4 linked regions of the Homo sapiens genome follow. The protein of the gene in region 1 purifies or fractionates together with the protein of each later gene. This does not show direct contact. Each region holds a gene or a part of one and is shown in the gene's direction. Other genes may lie near its edges.

Region 1 (7,269 bases):
CTACAGCAGAAACCATCCACATAAAGAGCTTTGCCCAAACTTATGATAAAGGGCACCCTCAGAGACTCTCCCTACTTTAATATTAGCCCATTGCAGAAATGGTGAGTGGAAAGAGAAATCTTAGGAAGAACCCCTTAAAAAAGCAAAATGTTTTTAGGTTTGTGCTGAAGAGCCTGGAAAAGAAATAAGGACACACACGCTGAGAAATCTTCCTCCTGCCCCAACACTGGGAATAATCTCCAAGGATCTCTACATATCTCATTCTCCTGGATACACTGTCCACTCAGAAATATTGTGCAGAGTGCAGTAATTCAAAAGTGAGCTATTGTGTTAGGAGTGAAGGCAAGAGTATCGTAAAATAAATCAATTTGAAAGTAATTCTCTTAAATTGCTTTATAGATGTTTAATGTAAGCCAGCAGCTATTAAACATAAACCTTAAATTCAGAAAAACTTGGTCATTCAGAAACTATAGAAACAGGCAGGACTTATTGCGAGGGCAAACACAGAGTGAGCTCCAGCCTGCTTCAGGAAAATCTGCCAGTGCCATGAAGGATGTACTCTGTCTGCTCCACTGCACTACTGCTCAGTATGAGCCCATGCCATCAGCTGTCCCTGACCCACAGGAGTTCTTTAGAAGAGACTGCAACAAAAGTTTCTAGGTGTTTTATACCTGCCAACTCGAGGGTTAAAACAAGTTGCATAGAAATGCTCAATCAAGAAAGACACAGTCATTACTCAGAGAATAATAAACAGCCTGGCAGCACATGAATGAATAGAAAAAAGATGTTACATGCAAAGCATGAAATAACCAAATTCCATAACAGATGTTAATCTGTAATGTGTTTAGGAGAATTTAGAGGAAGTATAAGATTTATTCTTTCATCAAAAAAATTATAGCCAATGAGGATATATCTATCAATTATCCATCAAGTGGTGATATGGCAGCACAAGGTAAAACACAAAGGAATAAAACCAACGTTTATTAAGAACCAATCATGTGGCATTTCACATTGAGCATCATATTTAATTCTGAAAAAAATCCTTGTACTGTATCATTCTTCATATTTTATGGATGCAGTAACTAAGGCTGAGAACTTTAAAATTTTTCCTAAGTTCAGACACATAGCTAAGTGGCAGAACCAAGATTCAAACTCACCCCATCTAACTGCAGAGCAAACTGCATGCCTTAAATGTCAAAGTGAATACTAGCACAGTTAATACAATGTTTGGAAACTCAGAGAAGGAATGATCCCTCTGCATTATAGTTACTAAGGAATCATTGCCATTATTTAAATGCCAGTGCTTCTACATCAGGCCCAAATTTTCTGTCCTACTAACTGTGAATCAAGACTTGATTCAACCTCTACTTGAGTATCTGCCGCAATGAGAAATCACTTACCTCCACTAACCACACATTTATTTTATAACAACAGATTGTTAGTAAGTCCTTTCTTATACATACTCAACAGCTGCTTCCCAAGATGCTGTAGGATTATGTCTAGAGTCAAACTAGCCAGAAGCAATGTCCAAAATACACCATAACACTGTGCAGCAAAGGTCCTACTACCACTTGTTTGGCCCAAACATTCTAGGCAGCACTGGATATCTGAATCATCAATTATTTCCACAAACCCTGACCCCTCTACCAGTCACCCTCACTAGAAGAATTAATTCCACATGATAATAGCTCCCTCATGTTACTCCCTTCTAAGTCAAATTGTACACCCCTTTATCTGATTAACAGAGTCTAAGTCACATGACCTAAATGCAAGAGAAACTGGGAATGGAAGTTTGTGGATTCTACCTTAGTAAGGCAAAGTTATCATTGGGAATTCCTCTAATACAGGAAGGGTGTTCCAGAGACATTAAGGAGCCATATAAATGGAAAATGTCCACTACAATCCATCACTTGGTTGCCCCACATCAACATTCATTCTTTTGCCACACTTAAAGTTTCCAAGAACAAAAATTATCCCACTGAACATAATCTTTACCATCTTTTATATAAAGGAAAATTAGACTTGACTCAGCAGAACTGAAATAACCCAGTCTCAACAGTTACTGCTTTTAACTTCAAGTACTGTGTCTCTAGGTGATACCTGCTCCAACAATAGTTTGGTCACATTTTCAATTTGATATTCTCTAGTCTCCCAACTTGATAACTGTACCCTAAACCATAAAGTTCACTACCAACATGCTATATATAAAATAACCAAAGGGGGAAGAAGAAAGAGAAAAAGGAAATCTCTTAAAATACACAGGTATACATATGACAAAGCAAAGAAGGAAATGTGAGCAGATAGCGCAGTCCTCGTTTCTGAAATTGGTCCCCTGACTGGGGCTATACCTATTCCATTTCCTCACCCTCAGCCAGGCAGGTGGAGCAAAACTTAAGTCTTGGTGGATCTGAATCTTGATGCTGTGGAGCTGTCTTACTAGCCCCAGACTACCTGCCTCTCAATTTCTAATTATATCAGTGAAAGCAAACAGCTTTGATTTGTTTAAGCCTCTGATTTTTTGGTCTAACTGATGTAAGACCACAAGACAAGAGTTCTCCAGCTCCGGATTCTCTTCTGTTCTGTTAATGGTGAAATGCCCAGAGAAGAGTTGCCAACTTTGGCAAATAAAAAATACAGGATTCCAGTTAAATTCAAATTTTAGATAAACAACAATTTTTTAGTATTAGTGTGTCCCATTCAATATTTGGACATACTTAACTAAAAAATGATTTGTTGTTCATCTGAAATACAAATTTAACTGGGCATTCTGAATATTCTCTGGCAACCCCCGAGAGAGTGAAGAAAGTGGTACAAGGACACTTAAGAAGACCAGATTTGAAAAGACATTACGGATGTGTTTAAATGTCTTATTCTAGAGAGAGTTAGAGCTGTAGGTAGAACTTGGGAAATTAAGTTAAAAGCAACAGAGGACCTGGCCAATATATACTAAGGAGTGGATCACTCTGGTCACAAGCCCAACCTGAGACCAAGGGCATAGTGAGATGATTTGGGAAAGGCACTTATACACTACTCATCCCCGTCTTTGAACTAAATGCCTTATAAATCTCCAAGAGAAATGACAGTCCACCATGTGGACTGCTTTCTGTAAGTCCAGGGAAAATAAAAGCTATGTGCTTGAAACCCACTTCTGATATTATAAGGTGTGTGATCTTTGTCATGTTAATGGGTCTGAGTATCAATTCTACAATTGTAAAGTGACAGTAATGGTGTGTCCCCAGGTTGTTGTGGAAAGCTTGATTCTTAATGCAACAGTAGGAAACCCCAACCTCTCTGGAGCAAACACCCTTCTACATCTTTACTTCCCCTGCACATTGGCAGGACTCTATTCCTCTATTTCTCTCTAGTGCTAGAGCAGAAAGGGACCTTGATTTGATATCAGGAAAATCTATTTCTGAACCATAAGCTATGATAGCTGATTTAAAAAATTGACTATCATGACATGATAATGATCATAATGGTAATACATATTGATAGGGTTGCCGTGAAAGTAATAATATATCTAAGAGTTGTGACAATATATGATACACCTAGACTCTCAGAAAATGCTAATTCCAATCCCAATTGCTCTTTGCATAAAGTTCTGTCCTAGGGTCTGTTCTTTTCCCACATCTACCCTCCTTGGATCTCTCTTCTGTCAAAAACATGTGGTTCAGAGGAGGAGAGAGATCCAGGTCAATGTTTTTCAAATTACAAGGAATTATCATTTAAATGGGGTTGTTGCTCAAGTTTTGACGTGTAGTGGAATGGAGTGGAGTGGAGTGGAATGGAAACTAACAGAAAACACTGCACATGGTTAAGATAAAGATTGTTTCCTGAAACCTTTAATTTGTGCTTACATACTCACACATACATATGTGCATGCACTGGGACTCTGCAATATGCATTTCTGACTATGGAACATAGCCATAAAAGTCTTTGCACTGAACGTTCAGTGGGCCTTTCACAAGCTGCCCTAATTGGGAAAGAAAAACATGGTCCCTCCATTTCCTGCCCCCAACTCCAGAAAAGTCACCATAGTTGAGGGTACATCTGAGAAGCCAGCACTTGGGAGTTCAGGGCTCAAGTTCCTTTCTAGAAAAACACTGGGTGATTCTAGGGGAACTTCTGATCAGAAACAGCCAATTCAGAGTGAGAGAAGAAAACGTGACCATGCAGTTCCTGTGGTTACCAGCCTTGCCCCTCTCTTGCCTTCTGGGAGTTATAAAACCCAAGACTGGAAAGGAAAACCAGCATTTGCTCAGGCAGCCTCTCTGGGAAGATGCTGCTTCTTCCTCTCCCCCTGCTGCTCTTTCTCTTGTGCTCCAGAGCTGAAGCTGGTGAGTATCAGGGTTCTTCCCTCTGAAATCTGCAGTATCAGCTCCTGAAACAAAGATGTTTAGTCTGAAAATAGCTGACTCCTAAACAGGGTTCCAAGATCTCTCTTCAAGAGTCCCAGAGGGAAATTTCCACTTGGGATGTGTGCCACCCCACCCCCACCCCCACCCACTGCCATTCTCTACAGCCTAGGACAGCCCCCAGGAACAAGGAATTTCACCTCAATTGTAGAAAAGCCCAGAGCAAGTGGAAGGAAAAGGGGTATCCCCAGGAAAACAGACATGTCCTCTTAATCTTCTGAGCATCAGGGCTACCCATTACTTTGTGACTTTCTCACTCTGTGACCATGCTCAAGAGCTATGGAGAAATCTAAAACAGGAACCTGGACAGTGGGTCCTACACAGAGACAGAGGAGGGTGGGCCAGGGCAAGGTGGGAGTGGGAGAAGTCTGAGATGAAAACATCAGAATGGAGCAGAGGCAAGAATGAGATTTCACCTGGGAGGTTATGGGTGGGGAAAGATACGAAATACAGGAGACAGGAGAGGGAAGATGGGCGGAACACAGGGTGAGAATGAGATTCCAGGGAAGCCTAGCTCAGCTTTAACCCAATTTGTCCATTCATTGGAGAGAGTATCTATGGCCGTGTTCAAACCCTGGGGTGCTCTGTTCCAGGGGAGATCATCGGGGGCACAGAATGCAAGCCACATTCCCGCCCCTACATGGCCTACCTGGAAATTGTAACTTCCAACGGTCCCTCAAAATTTTGTGGTGGTTTCCTTATAAGACGGAACTTTGTGCTGACGGCTGCTCATTGTGCAGGAAGGTGAGACAACAGGGTCTATTTATCTCCAAATGGGAGATGAACAACCAGAGTAGCATCCAGGAATACACCTGCACTGGGGACTGAAGAGGGGGTCCTGGGTCTTGTCAACTTTCAGGAGAGGGAAGACTTGGGCTGAAAGACTTTAGTCTGTGTTTGAATAGTTCCTTGAGCCTCAGTCACTGTGAGCTAAGCTCCCCTTCGGAGGAAAAGGAGGTCCTGTCCAAGGTCCCTCTTGTTGCAGTAGCACCCCTCACCCCTACCCAACTCAAGACACACGGCTCACTTTTCAGGGCCCCACCCAGTCTCAGGGCCACTTCCTCTATGGCCTTTTCAAGAACACTGGCCTCTAGTTCTCAGGGTCCTGAACCCATCATTTTATGGGAGGCAGAGAACAGGGTCTACATGAGACCCCCACTTTCCCGTTTAACTGATATCTCCTGCTTCAGGGGCTGGCCCTCATGCAGGGTTCCCTGAATTAGGAAGTGTGAACCCTGTCCCCTGAGTCCTCCCTGGCCTGTTCAGTCCCCAGCAATTCCAGGGGTCGTAGAAATTGTGTCTGTTTCCTGAGAAAGCTCTTTCATGAGTTAAGCCTGAGCCCTCAAATGCCACAAGTGGCCCATGAAAAGGGAGATGGGTAGAGTCCGGCGACCCAGTGACAGAGTTTAGTCCTCTTTTCTCAGAATGAGCTCACCTCAGAAGAAACCCCAAGCCATCACTGTCGCTCCTTTTCCTTCCTTCTTCCTCACAACAGGTCTATAACAGTCACCCTTGGAGCCCATAACATAACAGAGGAAGAAGACACATGGCAGAAGCTTGAGGTTATAAAGCAATTCCGTCATCCAAAATATAACACTTCTACTCTTCACCACGATATCATGTTACTAAAGGTGACAACACCTCTCTTCTCCCTTTCCACTTCCCATTCTCCTAAGCTTCTCCTTCAGGTCCTCATTGCCCTGAATTTTTCTTAGGACTTGGCTATAACATGAAGCTACTCACCCTGTCCCTCCCTGATCACCTCCAACTGTCCAGAGCCCATTTCGAGGACTGACAGTCCTTCATTCCCTTCACAGTTGAAGGAGAAAGCCAGCCTGACCCTGGCTGTGGGGACACTCCCCTTCCCATCCCAATTCAACTTTGTCCCACCTGGGAGAATGTGCCGGGTGGCTGGCTGGGGAAGAACAGGTGTGTTGAAGCCGGGCTCAGACACTCTGCAAGAGGTGAAGCTGAGACTCATGGATCCCCAGGCCTGCAGCCACTTCAGAGACTTTGACCACAATCTTCAGCTGTGTGTGGGCAATCCCAGGAAGACAAAATCTGCATTTAAGGTGATCCTCCAACTAGGTTTCCTCTCCAAAACTCACTGTTCAGGGACCAGAATGCTCTTAGAAGGAGATGGGGTCAGAAGGTTGTCAGTCAGTGACAGGGTGAGCATCACAGGAATTGCTGTCCTCCCGTGGTCCAAGACAGCCTCTGACCATCCATTCCAGTCTACTGCACTGGGGGCATGGGGTGATGTGGAGAATGTGGATGACGGTCCCAAGAAAGGAAGAAGGGGCATCAGAACTAGATGTATAAGTGAGGAGCTCCACCTCCTGCGTCTGACTTTAGGTCTCACTGTGACTCCAAGCTGGCTGGCAGACAGGAGTGGAGGACTTCCCGGGCTCACCTTCTTCTCTCTCTCCTCCCCCTACAGGGAGACTCTGGGGGCCCTCTTCTGTGTGCTGGGGTGGCCCAGGGCATCGTATCCTATGGACGGTCGGATGCAAAGCCCCCTGCTGTCTTCACCCGAATCTCCCATTACCGGCCCTGGATCAACCAGATCCTGCAGGCAAATTAATCCTGGATCCTGAGCCAGCCTGAAAGGGAAGCTGGAACTGGACCTGAGCAGCAAAGTGTGTGCCACTCATTCTGGTCTACCCTTGGTCCCTCAGCCACAACCCTAAGCCTCCAGAAGTATCCTACAGGTCACAGAACTCTCAATAAACCTCAGTGAAGACACAGCTTCTAGTCGTGAGTGTGTGTCCCCTCTCTGCTGCTCTCTTCTCCCTGCACATAGTGACCTGATTCCCAGCCCAAGCACCCAAGGATTTGGAAGGGGTTTGTGTGT
Region 2 (7,025 bases), on another chromosome or scaffold:
AAATATTTTATTGGTGGGAAAAGGTAACCCCACTAATAATTATTCAATCCAGAGTAATATAGTCCATAATACATCATATAGTCCATAAATCCATATAGTCATTATCTATTGCAGTCATTTTTCAAACTAAAGATAGCTATAAGTATGTGCTATCATTTCTGATTTCAAGTATATATATATATATATATATATACTTTCAAGTATATATATATATACACACTCTATTCCTAATCAACACAGGTATATTTTGATACCGTATATATGGTATCAAAATATACCTGTGTTGATTAGGAATAGGGTGTATGGACATAGCTTTGCTTGTTAAACCAACAAGATAGAATTATGTCTTTTATCAATTTTAATTCTAAGAAGTTCCTGTTTCCAGTTTATGTAATAATTTATATCTTGGCCCCTAAATGCTCTTTATAAATACATTTCAGAATTTTATCAGCATTTTCTTTCTAGTTCTTGTTGTTGGAACATCAGTCTTCTTAATAATAGTCCCAGGTGGCCGGGCGCAGTGGCTCACGCCTGTAATCCCAGCACTTTGGGAGGTGAAGGCGGGCGGATCACAAGGTTGGGAGATCGAGACCGTCCTGGCAGTGAAACCCCGTCTCTACTAAAAATATAAAAAAAATCAGCCGGGCGTGGTGGTGGGCACCTGTACTCCCAGCTACTGGGGAGGCTGAGGCAGGAGAATGGCCTGAGCCCGGGAGTTGTAGCTTGCAGTGAGCTGAGGTCACGCCACTGCACTCCAGCCTGGGCGACAGAGCGAGACTCTGTCTCAAAAAAAAAAATAGTCCCAAGTGCTTTCAATAAGTTATGGTCAAATTAGTTATGAAAACTAGCTTCCAGATAGTACAATGCAGAGAAAAAACATATATACAGGAGTGTTTTTATTTTACTCATTACCATAATGTAATTATCAGTTGTAAACTGAAAGTCTGCTGAGAGTCTGTTCCTGCGTCGTATTCCCGGTTTTCCAGGGCCATTACAGATTACCACAAACTTTGTGGCCTAAAACAATGTAGACTTGTGTTGCTGTCATTCTGTAGCTTAGAAGCCCAACCCCTGTGTCTCACAGGGCTTAAGTCATGCGATCAGTAGGGCTGCATTGCCTTCTGCAGCTCGAGGGAAGAACCTGTTTTCCTTCCTTTCCTGGTTTTTAGAGGCTGCCCACATTCTTTGGCTCTTGGTTTCTTCCATCTCAGAGACAGCAACACAGTGTTTCATTGACCACCCTTCTGTCAGCAGAGCTCCCCCCAGCCGTAACTGGGAACGCCTCTGTGCAGAAAAGTTACCCTTATGATTACACTGGGCCCACCCAGGTAATCCAGGGAAATCCCTCATCTCAATTTCCTTATCTGAACCGCGTCAACAAAGTCCCTTTTGCCATGTATAGTGACATATTCACAGGCTCCTGGGATTAGGACGTGGACTATTTGAGGGCCAGCCTTCTGCCTACCACATGCGTACATATTTACCTTGGCATAGTTATTTTAAAACAATCTGATACACAAATGAAAAGGGAATTTACACAGGAAACAGACGGACAGAGTCTCCTCCTATACTCGTACATTAGCTCACCAGCGATTAGTCCATCTGCAAACAGACGAGAAATTTGCAGGGAAAGCAATCAGAACAGGGACAAAAACATTCTTGTTTTAGATTGCATATGTTTCTCCTTCAATTTCTTTTTTTTGGGGGACAATGTGTGAGTGATTAAGCAGCCGGAAGAGTGGCGAACCACAGACTGTAGTCTTGGAATGTCGAGTCTTGCCTGTAAGATGTTAAAATAAGAATCGTTTTGGCCTGGCATGATGCATAATTGTAATTGTGAAAAAATTTAAAGCTAAAAGTTTTTTTGTTTAAATTCCAATAAAATATGTTTACGTTATTCCTTTGATTAATAATAACAAATATATAGCTCGATTAAAAAAGTCTCTGAGACACACAGCTAACAGTGAGGAGACCACGCATCATTATGTGGTTGTATTAAAGCACTCATCGGTTGGAATCTGAGGTAGAAATGGTATAATACAAAACTTTATTTCATGCACTGTTTTCTAACTAACTGAAGATGTTCCTAATTGACTGCTTTTGTACCTTTTTGCAAGCTTCCATAGTGACCGTAATGCACCTTGTCAATGCTGTGGTTGACACGGTGAGCACAGAAGGTACAGTTGTAAGTGCTCGTGCTTGTGTCTGTGTCTTGCAGCAGCCGTGTCGTAGAGCTCGGCCGCATTGCTATTGCAATGGTAGGAAAAAACAGTTTGTGGTTTTGAGGGGGTTGAGTCCTTTTATTTTATGCAGGTGTGTATATACGTAATATGAGTGCTTTGCAAAAAATATCTCAATGTATGTTATGTCTTTGTTCCTTTTTACCATTCATAGTGATTTACATGAGATCTGGAGAGCTTATCTGTAGGTGGTGCAATCAAGAAAAAGTTCAGAAGTAATTTTACCTAAAATTTTTTTGAAACAAAAATTCTTCTTCGTATGTACAGGAATAAGACTTGAATAATGTAAAGCTTTCATAATTAACCTGTAACTGACTCTTCACTTTTGGTTTTTCCCTGAGTATGATCAAAGAAAAGGGTGTAGAGCATGGTAAAAGAATATTTTCATATTTGGTTTAGTGAAAATTATTTAATGTGAAGCTTTATCTGCTCAGAGTTGTAAGAAAGGACATTGAGCACCTTCCCCAAATTATTTTAAATTAAAATAGCCCTTTATTAGTGCACTGAAATTCATCACATGGGGAAGACACAGGCTAGTACTTTTCAAACTGTAATGTGAATCAGATCATCTGGAGGGCTGTTAAAAGCCCAATTGCTGGTTCTCAGCACCAGCATTTCTGATCCAACAGGTCTGGGTTGGGACTTTAGAATTTGCATTTTTCACCAGTTCCCAGGTAGCTCTGATGGTGCCGGTCTAGAGATCCCACTCGAGAACTGCTTACAGAGGCCATCGAGTACACAGACGTCATCATAGAGTTCGGGGGATCCTTTATGCTAGGACATGATGCTGTCAAGGTTCAGGAGGAGGGAGGATAGCTCTGGGCCCCATTTGCTATCAGGCAGAAGAGGCTTAGATACTCCAGTGTTCATGGTTATAGTTACTGATGACGCCTACACTTCTTTTCCTAAGAAGTACCATGTTTTCACTGGGCAAATCAGAAACATACCTGTATTTTGTCTAGTGAAGTTTTAGTGTTAAACTGATGACCTTCAGCATTTTAAATATTATTGAAGCTTATAGAAGCAGAATTTCAACAGTTCCTTCATTGCAGTCTCCTTCATTGACAAATATTTTTTGGCATATCCAAGAAGTGCACATGGAATTTAAAGTTGAAAGCTATTACTAGTGCCTACGTAACAAAAGTTGTTGATCTTTTTTTGTTTAAAGGAATTGCTGCTTTTGTTACTAGACTTAAAAATGATTCTGTAGATACATGTTACCTAAATGCCGGCGTATTCATGTTTTAGAGACACCACAGTCTTTTAAAATTACTGAAATTTCTAGAAGTGAACTATCAATCAAATATTTGTCCCAAATTATAACACTGTTGAATGCATAGAAAGCCTTGTTTAAAAAATCACGGATGTGACCGTTTTTCTGCTGTGATGTCTACTTTCACAGTTATTGATAGTTTCTAACAGTGCTTAACCTGCATGATCCTGTTTAATCCTCATAACAACTCTAACGGATTTTCACCCCATTTCAAAGAGAGAACCTGAAGGTTAGCCAGGGCCTGGGCAGGCGTCTCATGGCCCTAACTGATAGTGGGATTTACATGCGTTTGGTTACACTTCCTGCTGGGCTTCTGTGTATAGATGCGGGGCCCTGGCAGGGCAAGTGTAATTACAGACATGGGGTAAGTGTAGCCGTGGTCTCTTTAGGGAATGGCTCACAGTGTCAATATTAAAGCATATTCAAAATACATACAGTTTGGAGAGATCTTCAGCTTGTACATCTGTCTTTAAGTATCTAAGTTTGCCTATGAATTCCTCTGAATTTAATGTCCTTTGAAGTTGCAGTGTGCTATAAAGTGTGTGCATTATGTAGCTGTAGATGTATTTGGATTATCACCTATGTAATCTGATCAGTTTATATTTTATTAGAGCCTGTTTGTTTTGTTTTCATTATTCCTAAGGAAATTCTGTGTTTTCAGGCTGTGATTGTCAGAAACAAGGAAAAGAAAGTAATATTTGAGTTTTCTGGCCAAATTTCTGGTTCCTCATTCCGCAGTCACTTTCCTCCACTTCCATATTCCATTTTATTTGTGGTACATACATTTCTCAGCCATTTGGAATTGTCATAGATACTGGCGTAAGGACATGCTGTATGGCTGATTGGGCCTCTGTAAGCAGTTTTCATTGTTCTGTGTACTTACCTTTATTGCCTTTTCAGCCGACTGTTTTAATTACAAATGTTTTCTTTTTTTTCTACTCTGCCACCAAAAGAATCTTTGGCTGCTCCTGACCTCAGCAAACCAAGAGGTGACTTATGCATGCCAGTTATTCATTGATACTCACTAAAAACAATGGGTCAAGCCTTGCCCCAGTGCTGACTGACTACGCTGGGTCGCCCAGTGTTTGCAGCAGTAACTAAGTACACGGCTGCATGTGTGTGCGCATTGCATTTGAAGCACGGATTGCCTAACCTTCTCCCGCCTCTCCAAGGATTTTTTAAATCCTAAGGAGGAAAAAAAAAAAACTATTCCAAAATTGGAAGTTTTTTTTTAAAATAGTGGTGCTTTATATAGTCTAAAAGGATCACAGTCCTTTTGGAAGTAACACAGATTGATTGTTACAGTGTATCAGAGGCTGTGTTATAATCTTGCAACGCTTGTTCAATTGTATTTTGCTTGAATTGGCATGCTTTGATACATACCTATATTAAGTTAATTTGTTGTCTGAGGGTTAATGAAAAATAGTAATTTTAATATTAAACTTGCTACATTATTATGAAGGAAGCTTATTTTCTAAACTTTAGCATGTTAAAGGTTACTTTTATTACTTTAAAAAGTTGCATTGGCTGGGCCTGATGGCTCACACCTGTAATCCCAGCACTTCGGGAAGCTGAATTGGCAAGATTGTTTGTGGCCAGGAGTTTAAGACCAGCCTGGGCAACATAGTGAGACCCTGTCTCTATAAAAAATAGAAATGCAAAATTTTTTTAAGTTGCATTAATCAGTATTTTTTTAATGAGAAGTAGTGCAGATCAAGTGACACTGGATATTTCACTAATGTCCTGAGACTGGATCAGTACTCTTCTTCCTACAGAGCAGTGGGTTCTACAGAAGAAAAGCCAGAAGGATGGTTAGAATCATTTGTAGAAAAATGTATATAATTTAGATGCTAGCATCCCATTTCTCTTAGGACTCCTTTTGTTTCCTTGAATGTTAGTTGCGTACATAAAACTGTAAGTCCACATTTTAGAACTAGAGCCTAGTTCATAGGGGTCTTTAAACTGGAGTGGGTTGGGGGATGTCTTCAAAGCAAAGACGAGGAATTTCCAGTGGTGAACTTTGAATGAAGGCATAAATGCGGTTGCATCTTTGTGTCTTTGATACACTGAGCTCTCTTTCCATGGCACAAAAGCTTAGGAGAAAACACACTGACATCTGTTTTCTTTTCCACCAAGGGTATCACTGGGATACATCAGATTGGATGCCAAGCGTTCCTCTGCCGGACATACAAGAGTTCCCCAACTATGAGGTGATTGATGAGCAGACACCCCTGTACTCAGCAGATCCAAACGCCATCGATACGGACTATTACCCTGGAGGCTACGACATCGAAAGTGATTTTCCTCCACCCCCAGAAGACTTCCCCGCAGCTGATGAGCTACCACCGTTACCGCCCGAATTCAGCAATCAGTTTGAATCCATCCACCCTCCTAGAGACATGCCTGCCGCGGGTAGCTTGGGTTCTTCATCAAGAAACCGGCAGAGGTTCAACTTGAATCAGTATTTGCCCAATTTTTATCCCCTCGATATGTCTGAACCTCAAACAAAAGGCACTGGTGAGAATAGTACTTGTAGAGAACCCCATGCCCCTTACCCGCCAGGGTATCAAAGACACTTCGAGGCGCCCGCTGTCGAGAGCATGCCCATGTCTGTGTACGCCTCCACCGCCTCCTGCTCTGACGTGTCAGCCTGCTGCGAAGTGGAGTCCGAGGTCATGATGAGTGACTATGAGAGCGGGGACGACGGCCACTTCGAAGAGGTGACGATCCCGCCCCTGGATTCCCAGCAGCACACGGAAGTCTGACTCTCAACTCCCCCCAAAGTGCCTGACTTTAGTGAACCTAGAGGTGATGTGAGTAATCCGCGCTGTTCTTTGCAGCAGTGCTTCCAAGCTTTTTTTGGTGAGCCGAATGGGCATGGCTGCGCTGGATCCTGCGCCTCTGGACGTGCTAGCCATTTCCAGTGTCCCAACTACTGTCATCGTGAGGTTTTCATCGGCTGTGCCATTTCCCAACGTCTTTTGGGATTTACATCTGTCTGTGTTAAAATAATCAAACGAAAAATCAGTCCTGTGTTGTCAGCATGATTCATGTATTTATATAGATTTGATTATTTTAATTTTCCTGTCTCTTTTTTTTGTAAATTTTATGTACAGATTTGATTTTTCATAGTTTTAACTAGATTTCCAAGATATTTTGTGCATTTGTTTCAACTGAATTTTGGTGGTGTCAGTGCCATTATCTAGCACCCTGATTTTTTTTTTTTTACTATAACCAGGGTTTCATTCTGTCTTTTTCCACTGAAGTGTGACATTTTGTTAGTACATTTCAGTGTAGTCATTCATTTCTAGCTGTACATAGGATGAAGGAGAGATCAGATACATGAACATGTCTTACATGGGTTGCTGTATTTAGAATTATAAACATTTTTCATTATTGGAAAGTGTAACGGGGACCTTCTGCATACCTGTTTAGAACCAAAACCACCATGACACAGTTTTTATAGTGTCTGTATATTTGTGATGCAATGGTCTTGTAAAGGTTTTTAATGA
Region 3 (7,025 bases), on another chromosome or scaffold:
TCAAAAACGAGGCAAGGCCACAAAGTAGAAAGGTTGGGTGAGGTTCTTTTTGTTTTTTTTGAGACAGAGTCTTGTTCTGACACCCAGGCTAGAGTGCAGGGGTGAGGCTCTTAAACTGGCTGTGAATGCAGATCAAAAGAAATTCATTCCAAACATGTTTTCATTAGTGCCAGATGGATGACTCTTACAGAGAATTGGATTTCTAATCAAATTTCTCTGACCAAACTCTTTATCAGCACCAACCAGATAAGAGAGCATTGAATGAGAATCAGGGGTAGAATTGGGGGGAAAATCCTTCTGGGATGCTGGAAAGGTAGGCAAAGAGATAACTGTTCAGAGACTCTTGGATACTGATCCTGCTTTCTGTCTGTGGATGAGGTTGTGGACTGAAACTGAGTTCGATTCAAGAAATGGGAGAGCCCAATTTTTGTAAATATTCCTTTAAGTGATCCCATGCAGATTATTCCTGAGTTCCTCAGGAAGAGTAGGTCTGTGGGAAACAAGACACTCAAACTCTAAGTGGTTTTTTGTTTTGTTTTGTTTTTTTGTTGAGATGGTCTCACTCTGCTTTTGCCCAGGCTGGAGTGCAGTGGTGCAATCATGGCTCACTGTAGCCTCCACCCCACAGGCTCAAGCCTTCCTCCCACCTCAACTTCCTGAGTACCTGGGTCTATAGCTGCATACCACCATGCCTGGCTCATTTTTGTATTTTTTTTCTGGAGACAGGGTTTTGCCATGTTGCCCAGGCTGGTCTTGAACACCTGGTCTGAAGCAGTCTACCCTCCTCAGCTTCCCAAAGTGTTGGGATTACAGGCATGAGCCACCGCACCTGGCCTAAAAGTGCTTTGTTAATTCCCTCACTCCACAACAACAATCCACACAGAAGACTTCTGTGACCAAATATATGGGAAACTTCCCCCACACACCAAGCAAGCAATCACTTCTGCAGTGGACACCATGCGAGTGCCCTCCAATTTAAGTCTGACACTATCTACCTGCAGATTGCATCAGATTCCATAGGTTGAGAACTCAGTTCCACAAAGCTGCCTTCCCTCTTTAGACAGCAGTCGCAAGTCTGGGCCTCTAGAACTTCTGACTGACCAGCTTCAAGCTGGGGTTCCCATGACCCCTTCTTTGGGTTTAATTTGCTGGAATGGCTCACAGAACTCAAGGAAACATTCTAACTGCTGTATTACAGAGGATGTTTTAAAAGACACAAATAAACAGCCGTATGAAGAGATATATGGGGTGAAGTCTGGAAGGGTCCTGAGTGCAGGAACTTTATCCCTGTGAGGCTGGGGTGTGCCACCCTCCAGGCATGTAGATGAATACTTGTTCCTCTTTCTGTCAGCCTTCACATGGTCAGCTATGTGGAAGTTCTTTGAACTCTGTCCTCTTGGGCGTTATAGGGAGACTTCATTGGACAGCCATGATTGATAACCATGTAGAAATGTGATTGGACAAAGCGGGTATGATCTAATACCATTAGACTGAGTGGGGAAACACAGCAAGGCCTGTCCATTCAGCTTCTTGGCCTCTCTGTGAAGCATTTCCTCCTCCAGGGTATGAGGCAGGACACCTTCTGAATGAGTGTCTTATGACCCACAATCGGATTAGAGACCTGCCTTGGGCTGGTGAAAGGAGGGAAGGAGATCAGAGAGATAGATTCTGTTTTCTGAGGCCTGCTTTTGAGTCCTAAAGCTTCTCAACATTATAACAAGAGTCTGTAACAAGGGCTATGGTAGTTGTGAGCTAGGAACCTGTATTAGTCTGTTCTCATGCTGCTGATGAAGACATACCTGAGACTGGTAATTTGTAAAGAAAAAGAGGTTTAATGGACTCACAGTTCCACATGGCTGGGAAGACCTCACAATCATGGCAGAAGACGAAGGAAGAGCAAAGGGACTTCTTACATGGCAGTGGGTAAGAGAGGACTTGTGCAGGAAACTCCTTCTTTATAAAACGATCAGATCTCGTGAGACTTATTCACTATCACAAGAACAGCATAGGAAAGACCTGCCCCCATGGTTCAGTTACCTCCTACCAGGTCCCTCCTACAACACATGGGAATTGTGGGAGCTACAATTCAAGATGAGATTTGGGTAGGGGCACAGCCAAACCATATCTAACTGTAGAAGAAAAATTATATATGTATATATAATAATATTACAGTAGGAAAACCCAAGTACCAGAGCTTGGCTGTTTTCTAAACCCTGGCAGGATCCTGCCTGCCTGAGGAGGATCACCAGCTCCTTGTACTTATTAGACAAAAAGGTTATCCGGGAGAAGCTGTGACAAGTTTTCTATATCTGCTTCTGCTCTGGGGGCCTCACAGCCCCATGTTGATTGGCTCAATAAATCCACTGCTTCTAGTGCGTGCAGTAGGGGAGGTATTTGTTATCTCTTATCACCCGAAATGGTTATATATTAAAGCAATCAATAGCTACCTAGAATCTATAAGTTATTATATACAGTCATGCACCGTATAACATTTCAGTCAACAACACAGTTCATATATGATGGTGGTCCCATGAGATTATAATACTGTATTTTCACTGTCCCATTTCTATGATTAGAATTACCTACAGTATTCAGCACAGCAATATGCTGTACAGGTTAGTAGCCTGGAGCAACAGGCTATACCATATAGTCTAGGTGTGTAGTAGGCTATACCATCTTGGTTTGTTTAAGTACACTCTATGATCACACAATGATGAAATTGCCTAACAGCATGGTTCGTTAATGCCTGCCCTGGTTCGTTAGTGCCTGCCCAGATGTTGTGAGGGTGACATGACATAATGTCCAGAGTGCTCAGAGCGCTTCACAAACATGGGTGCCCTCCACTGTTGACTCTCCCTCACATGCTCACTCCCTTAGAACCCCGATGAGCCACAAACAGCTGGGCCATTGGACAGTGCCTCTCTGACTACTTGACCTTGCCGTCTCCTGACACTCTTGATTATTTTCAGAGTACGGAGGAAAGTGGAAAATGCTTCATTACTTTGCTCAGAATTTCTTTGCTCCACTGTTGCCAGTAGGCTTTGAGAATGAAAACACGTTCTATATCTATGGTGTGTCAGATCTTCACTCGGATTATTCGATGACACTCAGTGTAAGTTACTTGGATTGTTTTCTAAGATCGAAGGAGACTTTTAGATGATTTCTTTAGTTGTTTGGTTACATTCTTTTGGGAAAATAAAAGAGAAATTAATTTAGAGTTAGAATACATATATTCAGGCTACAACCCTGCCATTAATCATGTGACCATAAGCAAAACCCTTCACATCTTGTTGATTCAATTTCTTCTCAGTAAAATGATACCAGTCTCTCTTCTTACAGGATTTCTATGAGTAGGAAATAAAATAACTAGATGAAAGCAAATCACATATGCTATAATGTGCCCCTTAAATGCAAGGTTATTTATAATTGTGAGAGGCTGGAAATAGTCCAAACTTTATAAAAAGAAATGGTTAAAAATGGCATGTTATAGTGAAAATCAGTAAAACTATTCAGAATGCGCATGTGGAAAGCAAATTTGTTTTAAAAAACAAATTTAAGTAAAAAGAAAGGCTAGAAACTCAAAGTCTTAGGTGGCTATAGTTTGGAGGACACTAATAACACTGAAAATAGGTCACATTTACAGAAAAATTACAACGCACCAGGTACTGTGCCTTCCGTGGATTATTTTTTAAATTCTCACAACAGCCTGTGACATTACTGCTGTTATTTTCATTCTACATATGAAGAAATGAAGACTGAGAAGTTACTTAGTCACATAGCTAGTATTTTGCAGGACTGGGATTAAAACTCAGGTTTCATAGTCTCTTAACCATTTCTGCTAACCTGACTTTCAGCAATTATTACTACTATTGTTCCTTAAAAACATAGCAACCAAGAATGCCTGTTTTTATTCTGTTTTATTTCTCCCCAGGTGAGAGTCCATACATGGAGCTCCCTGGAGCCCGTGTGCTCTCGTGTGACTGAACGTTTTGTGATGAAAGGAGGAGAGGCTGTCTGCCTTTATGAGGAGCCAGTGTCTGAATTGCTGAGGAGATGTGGGAATTGCACACGGGAAAGCTGTGTGGTTTCCTTTTACCTTTCAGCTGACCATGAACTCCTGAGCCCGACCAACTACCACTTCTTGTCCTCACCGAAGGAGGCCGTGGGGCTCTGCAAGGCGCAGATCACTGTAAGCACAGGTCATGGCGGAGGGCAGGGGACTGTGGCCTTGTGGGGTTCTCCTGCTCTTGGGCCAGCTCCTTGCATCCTGAGATTTGCATGTGTCCCCCTTGGTGCTGAGTTTACCTGAGGCCTGGGGGAAGATTGGCCTCTTCCCACTAAAAGCAAACACCAAATGATTTCTATTTCGAATCCAGGATTTGTCAGAGTTGCTGGTGACCACTACTCGTTTGTCCCATCACCCCTCCTTAGTGGGCAGGTGCAGTGATGGGAGAGGAAGCTCGAGTCATCACCACTGCCTGCATGCCCACTAGGTTCCAGGCTGTGTTCTAGGTGCTTCACCTCATAGTCTCTGACTTTCACCACAGCTCCAGGCATTATCATCTGCATTTTGTAAGTTTGGAAGCCAGTTTAGGAGGTTAAGTGATGAGCTCGAGGTCCTGTAGCTGGGAAGCATTGGAGCCCAGCTGACGCAGTCTAATTTTAAGTAGAGTCTATTAATATTCACTCTAGTCTCTTTGATTTATTGCTTCAAAGTAGCTCAATCACCAAATCTTTTTATAATTGCCAAGATATAAAAATGGGATGATCAGGATGTGTTGTTATAAAAATTGTGCAGCTGGAGAATTTGGAATTTGTCTAGTAGGTTGAAAACCTTTCCTTCCTTCTCCCCTACACATAGCAGTTGGAAATATATGTACACATATATGTTTTTAATTTTATTATCTTATCTTCTGGACACTCAGGAAATATCTTTCTAGAAAGTTACATTCTCTGTTTTTAGAAAATTTTAAATTTGTTTTACACTTTTACTTCATAGAAAGGGATTTTCTACATTTAATTTAGAAATAATCATATAAAAACACCTAATTCTTGTGTTTTATTTGAAAGAGCCTAACAACTGAAAACATACCTTCTTTCTATAGTCACATAATAAAATCCAAGTTATCTGTAACAACTAATAGAGAACAGAAGAAAATGACAGTCTTACATATATTTTTTTCCAAAAAAGAAAAAAAAAACCACTATGTACTGGATGAATTTTCAGTCTCTAAACTTATGATTTTGAAAACCAAATTTTTTTCTTTCCTGAGTTAGGCCTTCATTACCTTGAGGTGGGTAATTGGGGTGGGAGAAAAGCAGGGCTCTTTCTTTGTTCTATCTCATTTTGATTTCAGTGAGACTTGTCCTTCTTAAAGAGATAAAATGATAGTAATAATACTGTTAGTTAATGTTTAATTCGGGGCTAATATAGACTAGGTATTTGGCTTCTTTTCTCAAGGGAGATGCCAGAAACTTGTTCTCCCTGTCTCCCTGAAGCCAGGGTGCAAGCTTGAATCCCAGGCTCTGCAGTCAGACATACAGAGAGGAGATTTCCAATCCAACGAAGATAACCAGCATAAGCATGACACCAGCATCTCTTTCGGCCTTGGTCTTGGAGCAGCAGAAGCTGATGCTACCCTGGCAGCTTCCTGGGCAGGCTGGCATGAGCCGCATGAACCTTGTTCCTGTGGCTGCTTTAGGACCTTCACTGGAACAGCTGGGCGGTGCGATCTGGGAATTTGCCATCCAAATTCAAGCCTGAGTCTCTGATCCTGAAGAGCAACCTGATACGCTTTATTAAGCTTCTTTTCTGCTTCTATCAATATAGGTTTCCTTGTGTATAACTCAGAACCCTGAATGATAACATATTACACAAATATGTAAGGCTAAATTATATATAGTGAAAATGGCCCTTTGAAATTCTTTATGTCACACATAACATATAATGTAAGACTGAGATGTTGCATGACAAATGCACAGATTAAGAAACCAGGTTGCACTCAGCTCCGTGCTCACACAAAGAGAGGTTTGCAAACCCTCCCACTCTGGGGAGCAGCGCATCCTCACTCTGGGCATATGCTATTCGGCTACTTAAGAGGAATGGAGCCAACACGATTTAAATTGCACTGTCTCTTTTTGCTGCTATTTTGTGGAATTCACACATGTAAAAAAAATGCTAATAATGTGACTTTACTTAACTATGCAGTAAAAGAGATAAGCTCTAATGGTAGAGCTTTTGTAAATTTCTGGCAGTGGACTTTCTAGATTGCTGGATCTTTTCAGGAGACTTGAATGTAAGCTCCACAGTTGGGCTCTGTAGCTAGGTCCAGATATATCCTTAGAAAGTCATTAAAACCACCCAGGCTGTATGTAAAAATGTTGCTCTCTTGATGATACTCTGAGAAAAACTGTAAAAGATGTAAAGCTTTGAGCTTCTTGTGAAATATTCTCCTTAATGATTGGAGACGATGTATTTCCTTGATTTGTGATTATAATTTGGTAACGTTCCATAGCCTGTAGTCATTTTCCATGTATTGTTTTGTGTTTGAAACTGCACTTTAGCAGTTGTAGAACCAAAGTTGTGGGAAGTGGACTCCTTGTTAAGCCCACATAAATGTTTACAGGAACTGTATACAGACTATATAACTCTTCCCTCATCCTTCACTTCATTCATTTTTTTTTTTCTTTTTCAGGCCATCATCTCTCAGCAAGGTGACATATTTGTTTTTGACCTGGAGACCTCAGCTGTCGCTCCCTTTGTTTGGTTGGATGTAGGAAGCATCCCAGGGAGATTTAGTGACAATGGTTTCCTCATGACTGAGAAGACACGAACTATATTATTTTACCCTTGGGAGCCCACCAGCAAGAATGAGTTGGAGCAATCTTTTCATGTGACCTCCTTAACAGATATTTACTGAAGGAATCTAGGTTGTATTTTCAGTGGACAATGGGAATAAAGCATTTCTAAAGCACCGACTGGAGAGGAAGGCAACAGAGACAAGGAGAGAAGCCGAGAGACATGT
Region 4 (7,602 bases), on another chromosome or scaffold:
GTGGGCACTATCATAATGTCCATTTTATAGACAGGGAATCCGAGGCTCAGAGGTTAAAATGCCTGAGGACACAGCTAATAAGTGGTGTTCAGAAAAGTGCTATTTTATCTTTTGCGATTTGCAGATTAAATGATACAGATCAAAATGATAAATGAGCATGCTTTGACCCAGCAATTTCACCTACAAAAGTTTTTATTCATGCTTTGACACAGCAGTTTCACCTACAAAAGTTTATTCCGGGGAAATAAATTGGGTAAGTACATAAAGGGCTTTTATAAGGACATTTAGTGTTGTATTGTTTACAATGGCAAAAAATTGGAAACAATCTAAACGTTCTTCAAAAGGGGATTGGCGAAATAGACATATCAATACAATGTTAACCAGAGCAGCTCTTAAAAATAATGACATAGATCAATATGATTTGGCTTGGAAACTTGTGGCTTGCCTATAGCACAGTATATTGTTCAGAGCGGGAGGCAAGTTATAAAATAGCATGTAAGTTATAATCCCATTTTTGTAAAAGGAATTATCTTTAAGCAGGGGAAAATCTCTGAATGTATATGCTGTGGTTATCCTTGCAGAGGGGCTAGATTATAACAGAGCCAATCAGTTTATATTTCTGTATTATTTGAATATTCTTTTTTGGAATAACTATTTGAAGCAGAAAAAAGGCAATAAATATTGTCGCATGCTGGAATGCACAAAGCAGAACAAATGCACTACGACTGCAAGAACACTCCCAGGGCAACTGAAAGAAGATCAGAGAAGGCACGTACAGGAGAAAGATGTGATAGAAGACTCAACACACAGAGTAGGGTTATGCAGAAGAAAGACAGTGAGAAGCAGAGGAAAGGGAGATGGGAGGGAGAAAGAGTAAAAAGAGCAAAGCAGATGAGCAGGAAAGCAGATGAGCAGGAAAGCAGAGCAAAGGCAGACTGTTGAATCTGTAGAGGAGTTGTAATAAAGGTCAGCAGAGCCCTGGTGGCATCAGGGAATGTGCAACTGGGGCCTTGGTAAGGACAGTTAAGATAGTTAACTGTAGGCAGATAGATGATAGATAGATAGATAGATAGATAGATAGATAGATAGATAGATAGATAACTAAGGACAGTTAAGCTAGATAAGAGCATGGGTGCTAGGGTAAAGCAGTACAGTTAGTGCTCACTAAATAGATATGTCTTCCCCTATGTGTCCTATCCTCCCTTGTAAGTAGATAGGGGTCACAATACTCATTCTTGTCATTGAACTGTGACAGGAAGGGCTGAGGCCCTTAAAGTTTGCAATGCCTCTTTCATTACCCCATGCAGAAGCCATGGGTGTCATATGTTTCATGATGGCCTGACTAGAAGGAGTCACCAATTCCCAGGGGCCAAGATGTGATCATGAAATAAACTCTTTTTGTGTTAAGATACTGTGATTTGGGAGTTTGCCTGTTATGAGAGCTAGAATTTCTTGCTCTGATATGCGTTGTCAGGTACTAGCTGTCTGACTTTGGATAGATTACTTAACTCTCTGAACATCTGTTATTTCACCTGTCAATGGAAATAATAATAGCACCTATCTCACGTGGTTATTGGAGGATTACATGAGAAAGTGTACAGTGTTAGGCACAAAATATTCAATATGTGTTATCATTGTTATTATTATCGTTTACAGCAGGAGTTGATAAATAAATTCCCCAAAATGGGCAGCAACAAGGACAGGGAGTTGTGAAGAGATGACAGCAGGGCTGATCCAAGGAGATATTGTGGAACATATTAACAAAAGTTGTGGAATCTGGACTTGTAACTAAAGAGGACTGAAGATATAGACCCAAATATCTCTGGCTAGTGAATTGCCAACTTCCTATGAGGAAGCATGAAGCTGTCATTTGTGGAGGTTAACTTATAGAGATAAGCTAGTTATGATTAGGTGCATCTCCATAAACATGCTTACTAAATTTTCATCATAATGAAATATGTTAGGTTTATATAATCTCTTTTTCCAACATTTCAGTTGAAGTGAACATAGGTGTTAGATATGCCTAATATTACAGAAATATTGGTTGACCCTTTGCTCTTCCAAGTGATCTTAGGGCAAGGACTCAGGCTGCCTTCTCCCTTGACTACTTAGGGCAGAGGGAGGACTATGTGAGTGGGCCAGCATGTGCCCCTGTGGTGGACTGGTGGTCAAGGGGGGATGTTATATATAAATCCAATAAATACAGCATATGATTAATTCAGGGTAACTTGGTAGTGCTATTCTCCCTTTATTTATTGCTTTTCCTTTTTGAAAAGTAGCATATTTGCAATTAGCAAGTATAACAGATATCTTATTGAGACCTGTGCCATAATTGTATGATTTTTGGAGTGCAGTGATTATTTATAGGCGTAATCAGGGTGGACCATGGCCTCCAACTTCCAAGCTCAAGTGATCCTCCCGCCTCAGCCTCTGGAGTAGCTGAGACTACAGGTGCACCCCACTGCACCCAGCTTGATTTTTAAAATAAAATCAAATTGTTGATTTTTGAGAGAACAAACGGTTTAAGTTACTCCCATTCAGTAGCAGCTGCAAAATTAGGAGGGGGTTTAAGGGTGACCGTCTGGTTGTCAGAGTGTGTTGGAAGCTGAGTTTGAATTTGCACATCACTTTACATGGATTGAGAAGATGTCCTCCACCCCCCCGCCCCGCCCGACCTTTATTTTTGAGACAGAGTCTCGCTGTGTCACCCAGGCTGGAGTGCAGTGGTGAGATCTCTGCTCACTGCAACCTCTGCCTCCCGGGTTCAAGTGATTCTCGTGCCTCAGCCTTCAGAGTACCTGGGATTAAAGGCATGTGCCACCACACGTGGCTAATTTTTGTATTTTTAGTGGAAATGGGGTTTCACCATGTTGGCCAGGCTGGTCTCGAACTCCTGACGTCGTGATCTGCCTGCCTTGGCCTCCCAAAGTGCTGGGATTACAGGCGTGAGCCACCGCACAGGCCCTACTTTCTAAATAAAAAGGGAGGGGTCTTTTTTTGGGAGGAGGTTAAGGCCCGCAGCTCCCCTTGATATGGCCGCTGCTCTCAGGCACTTAATCCATTATTTCAACAAATGTTTAAAGAGCACCTACTATGTGCTTCAATTATACAAAGATGATACAACCTCTGTCCCTAGAATGACCACAGCCCAACAGAGAGACTGAGGGCGAAATGTGCAAACCCTGGGTCCTCCAAATACTTAAGATTCAGAGCCAGGTTGTCAGAGGTTCTCCTTTGTTCTGGCTGAATAGTAACACTGACAGGGACCTGCCAGTTTCAAGTTATTCCAGTTATTCGGAAAAGTGAATTGTTCCAAGTGGCGTCAGTGCACGTTAGAACGTGGGCCCGCGTCATGGTGTTCGTGAAGACTGGAAACAAGTGGGACCCCCGCCAGCACAGCTCATGCAACTGCTTCCCCTCCAACAGTTTCGCCCATCCCGACTCAATTGAGGGACCCGAGACGTTTCTTCTCTGGGCCAATCAGAACCCAGTCAGCATCTCTCTGATGCAACTGTTCCCTTATAAAACGATTAAACGTGGACCAGCTATTTTTATTCGGTCCTATAAAAATAGCTGCCGTCAGTCAGTCCTGGCGGGGAATCAAGGCCTCTGCTCTTCAAGTGCGCGCCCCAGTCGGCCGTGTCCTGATGTTACTTTCCCAGCCATTGGCATCTGGGGGCGCAGCTGGACCCACAGCTCCCAGACCGCGTTGTGTTCCACTGACAGAGTCTCCTAGGGAAAGGGAAAGGTGCATTTGCTCTCAGGCTCCGCCTAGGACACACACACCAAGATCTTCCCGGGCTGCTGGTAAAAGCCAGGATGCAACAGCCTGAGGGTCCCAGAGCGAGGAAGAAGGATCAATCAGGTCCCCCGGACGCACTTAGTTCAGCAGGAGTGGCGGGCTGTGGGGGTGGGAGGTAGCCCCAGGGCCTTTGATGTGGGCACACGCTCCCCCAGCCCGCCGAATCGGTTCCTCCCCTAACAAGGGATGTGGACACGGTTCATCTGCCTTCCGGTGTGCCTGAGCAAGAACTGTGCAACCTATCTCCACCCCCTCCGTCCCCGGTATGAGCACTTTTGATTCCTCCCCAGACAAAGCCAATCTGAACTCCAGCAGAATGAATAAAGGGATCAGGTTGCTCTCCCGGCCTCCCCTCACCTCCCTCCTCGCTTCTCCCTTTCCCCACGTGACTCTCTGGAATTTCGCCAAAGCTCCGAGTCTCTGGGTCCATTTTCACACCGAGCAAAGCAGAGAGGAAGGAGGCAAGGGAGACTAGAGGAAGGCTGAACGTGTGTCCTTTAAACACGGGGTCCAGACCCGGCGTATTTTGGGCGTTTCCAGGCTCTCTCGCCAGAGTGGCCTTGAGTTTGGGGGTCTTTTCCAGCCTCGCTAGCTTTTTCCTCCGTGCAATTAAAATTATGGCTCTTCTTCCACTCCCGTAATCATTGCACCTCTACCCTGCAGACCTCCTCCGGGGTGTTCAGCGCGGAGGTGGGTGTTGGTGTGCAGCAAGCCGCGTCCCCGCAGCCCTCCTCACCCAGGCGAGGGGCGGGGACGAGAAAGTAGCAGCAGCGCCCCCCAGTCTTTCCTCTGAAGCTTCCGAACAGTCTGCTTCAGGGAGCGCAGCCTGAGGCGGTGTGGTGCGGTGCGGCTGCAGGGCGGGCGAGTCCCCGGAGCTGCCCTCAGCGCTGCACAGTTTCCAGCGAGCGGACCCCGGCAGATGAGGTCTGCCGAGCCGGGTGGCTCGACCAAGGAGTGGGTGTGGGTGGGTCTTTCGGGGCTCCCGGCGACCCGCGGTGCCGACGCAACGCCGACGTATGGTGCCAAGCGAACTTTAAAAAGCTGCTTCGGACAAACCAGAGCCAGGATTTCCACTGTCGGGGACCCGGGATCGGAAGGGTCTAGCCCGAGGGAAATGCTGGAAGATCCCATCGGCCAGTGACCAGCAACTTTCCGGCGAGATTTTGACGCGGAGAACTGTGCTCTGCCTCCTCTTATTCTCCCAAAGCTCACGTTGGCGTCCTGCCTTGCGGGGGAACTCGGCGCGCTCTCTGCCTGAGCAGCGAGTGAATTGAACCCCAGCCCGCTCCGGCGCCTCCGGGCTGATGAGTGTCGCTCTCCGCCCGTCCATCTCTTTTTCCCGGAGGTAAAGGCCCGCGGTCCCCCACCTTCAGTGCGCCCGGGTTCCAAGCGCCGGAGCCAGCGTTTTGGCGGAGCCGCTTCTTGGATGCTGAAGGCTGGGCTCCTCCATCGTGGGTGCCGAGGCGGCGATGGGTGTCCTCAAAGTGTGGCTCGGGCTGGCCCTAGCGTTGGCGGAATTTGCAGTATTGCCTCATCATTCCGAAGGTGAGAGAGCGGTGCCGCGTGTGTGTGTGTGTGTGCGTGTGCGTGTGTGTGTGTATGTGTGAGTGATCGTGCAGTTTAAAAATCTCAGCAGGTTTTATGGTATTTCGGTGAGGTGGAAGTTTTTCTGGGAAGGGTGAGGTGGAAGTGAAACTGGAATAGGCTTTTTCTGATAAGATTCCTACTCCTGATTGTTTTGTATTCGGATTACACCCCCGAAACGGCCTCCCTCTCTGCCCTAAGTGCTTTTGGGTGGGTGGGTGGCCGATGGAGGTGACATCTCTGAAACTGATCCTTTTTCTTTCCACCACCTACCTTTCCCCGAAGGGAAAGCAACTGCATGGAGCACAGGTGAGGAGCGAACAATTGCTCTTACCTGTTTAAAAATACTTCTGTTCCTAAGAAACATACAGTCTTTCATCTTAAAGCCCCATCGCTCTCCCGCCCTCCTTACCTCAGTTAGTCTCCCCCTAAAGTCCAGTTAGGATTTTATAACTAACTGGTTGGAGCGTGTTCTGGTCGTGGGCAGTTCAGTTGCACTGAAAGAAATCTCTCCAGTACGGAGAAGCACGAACCAGCCTGCTTCCCAGAACAAAAGTGGTTAATAAGAGTTTAGGTTCATTCTTTTACTTCACCCTCCGCCTCCTGGTTTTCCTCCGAGGCTCCAAGCTACCTGTAAAACCCCGGAGCCGCAGGAGAGAAAAGGAAGCCGTGAGACTAGTTGTCGCCATGATATCAAATGCAATCCGGGCTCAGCCAAATAAATGAGTCAATAAGTAAATCAAGAGTTTGGGGTCATGGGATGCCGGGCCTGGGGACGCGAGGCGCTGTGAGCTCCCTCCTGCTCCGAGGAGCCAGGGAAGTCGCCCCGCCAGTGCTTAGGGAGGGGGAAGGGAGCCGGCGGGCTGGGAGGAAGACGGCTTAATCCACAGCGCCTGGCTCTCGGCTTCCCCTCCCGGCTCCATTCATTATTCATCCAGCTGCGGGAAGAAGAGTTCACCTGCCCAGCCGCAAACCAGAGCCGCGGCTGGGCGGCGGCGGCGGGCGCAGGGCGGGCCGCCTTCTCCGCCCTGGTGCCTAGGAAGGGGCGCGGGGCGGCTCCCGGGAGTCGAGCTCTGGCGCAGGACTGGGGGCTGCGGGAGGCCCGGGGAGGACAAAGCTCTGCCTCGGGTCGACCTCCAGTCACTGGAGCAGCTGCCTTTTCTTTGCTGGCTTCCCAAGAGAAAGGCCTTGGGAATCCACGCACAAGGGTGGGGGACTTTCCCGTGGGTCCAGGTGCTGCCTTCTGCACTCTTCCGGGATGTGTGTCAAGTGTGTATAATCTCCGCGAAAGGCACATCTGGGGCCTGTGCAGCCTTCTCCCAACAGTGCAAGTCCTGTAGAAATATAACTTTATTGTTTATGTGCGTGTGGGCGCGTACTTTGGAAAAAAAAAAAAAAAGCTTGTAGGGCTTGATTATAACAATAAACCAGATGAGAGAGTCACCCCAGGCCACCCAAACCTGAACTTGGTACTTAGAAAAATTAATTTCACTTGGTGGCAGTTTTTAAAATTTAGAGTCCTATCCCAGCAACGCAGGAAACGTGCTATCACTCCCGGATAGCTCACCAGGGGGCAGTTGGAATGGTGCAGCTTGTCGGAACCAAAACTCTGAAATCAACAAAAGGCATTATTATTAAGAGCCTGCAGGGTGCGCTCTTTGGCAGATTGCTTGATCCAGTGGGCCAAGTTTAAGAAGTGCGGAATCTAGACTGGGAGGTGGGGATGGGGGGATGTGAAGCACAGAAAGCTGGGGGTAGAGACGGGGGGCGGGGGCGGGGGCGGAGAGAGGGTGTGGATATTACTCCAAAGAGTCTTTGGAAACTTTGCTTCTTATTGTTTGACTTTACTGTCAGAGCATTCTATAGCTGTTTCACAAATTGGATTGATAAATTGATAGATGTCTGAGTTTCCACCCACGTCATAATGGTGCTTATCTAATAATGAATGAATGAATGAATGAACATGGCCATTTATTGAGCAGGTATTGTTTGCCTGGCTCTTTGCTAAGCACTTTACATACTTTATCTCATTTAATTAGTTTAATTAAGTGATATCACTCCCACAGACAAAAAAACATTTGTCATCTGATGAGACCTCTGGTTTGGTCCTCTCAAGGTTTTCTTTTTCTTTAAAAAATAAGAGCATTGAGATCAAGGTTGGAAACCTCAAGGATCTTAGAAATCTCCTCAAGTTTTTATTATCAGCCTAGAGAATA

The links.
Region 2: the proteins of CMA1 (region 1) and FAT1 purify together in Homo sapiens (co-immunoprecipitation; 2 studies listed by BioGRID and IntAct, with this or other methods). This does not show direct contact.
Region 3: the proteins of CMA1 (region 1) and MANBA purify together in Homo sapiens (co-immunoprecipitation; 2 studies listed by BioGRID and IntAct, with this or other methods). This does not show direct contact.
Region 4: the proteins of CMA1 (region 1) and FRAS1 purify together in Homo sapiens (co-immunoprecipitation; 2 studies listed by BioGRID and IntAct, with this or other methods). This does not show direct contact.

Annotation. Positions count from the first base shown.
Region 1 is NC_000014.9:24,505,246-24,512,514, reverse strand, and holds CMA1 (chymase isoform 1 preproprotein), read left to right. Parts: upstream 1-4,249; 5' UTR 4,250-4,279; coding exon 4,280-4,337; intron 4,338-5,008; coding exon 5,009-5,159; intron 5,160-5,910; coding exon 5,911-6,046; intron 6,047-6,232; coding exon 6,233-6,487; intron 6,488-6,855; coding exon 6,856-6,999; 3' UTR 7,000-7,162; downstream 7,163-7,269.
Region 2 is NC_000004.12:186,587,845-186,594,869, reverse strand, and holds part of FAT1 (protocadherin Fat 1 isoform 1 precursor), read left to right. Parts: intron 1-4,466; coding exon of another isoform or gene 4,467-4,502; intron 4,503-5,649; coding exon 5,650-6,278; 3' UTR 6,279-7,025.
Region 3 is NC_000004.12:102,631,952-102,638,976, reverse strand, and holds part of MANBA (beta-mannosidase precursor), read left to right. Parts: intron 1-2,969; coding exon 2,970-3,112; intron 3,113-3,931; coding exon 3,932-4,189; intron 4,190-6,695; coding exon 6,696-6,920; 3' UTR 6,921-7,025.
Region 4 is NC_000004.12:78,052,739-78,060,340, forward strand, and holds the start of FRAS1 (extracellular matrix organizing protein FRAS1 isoform 1 precursor), read left to right. Parts: upstream 1-4,584; 5' UTR 4,585-5,271; coding exon 5,272-5,347; intron 5,348-7,602. UniProt on the Homo sapiens protein: Involved in extracellular matrix organization. Required for the regulation of epidermal-basement membrane adhesion responsible for proper organogenesis during embryonic development. Involved in brain organization and function.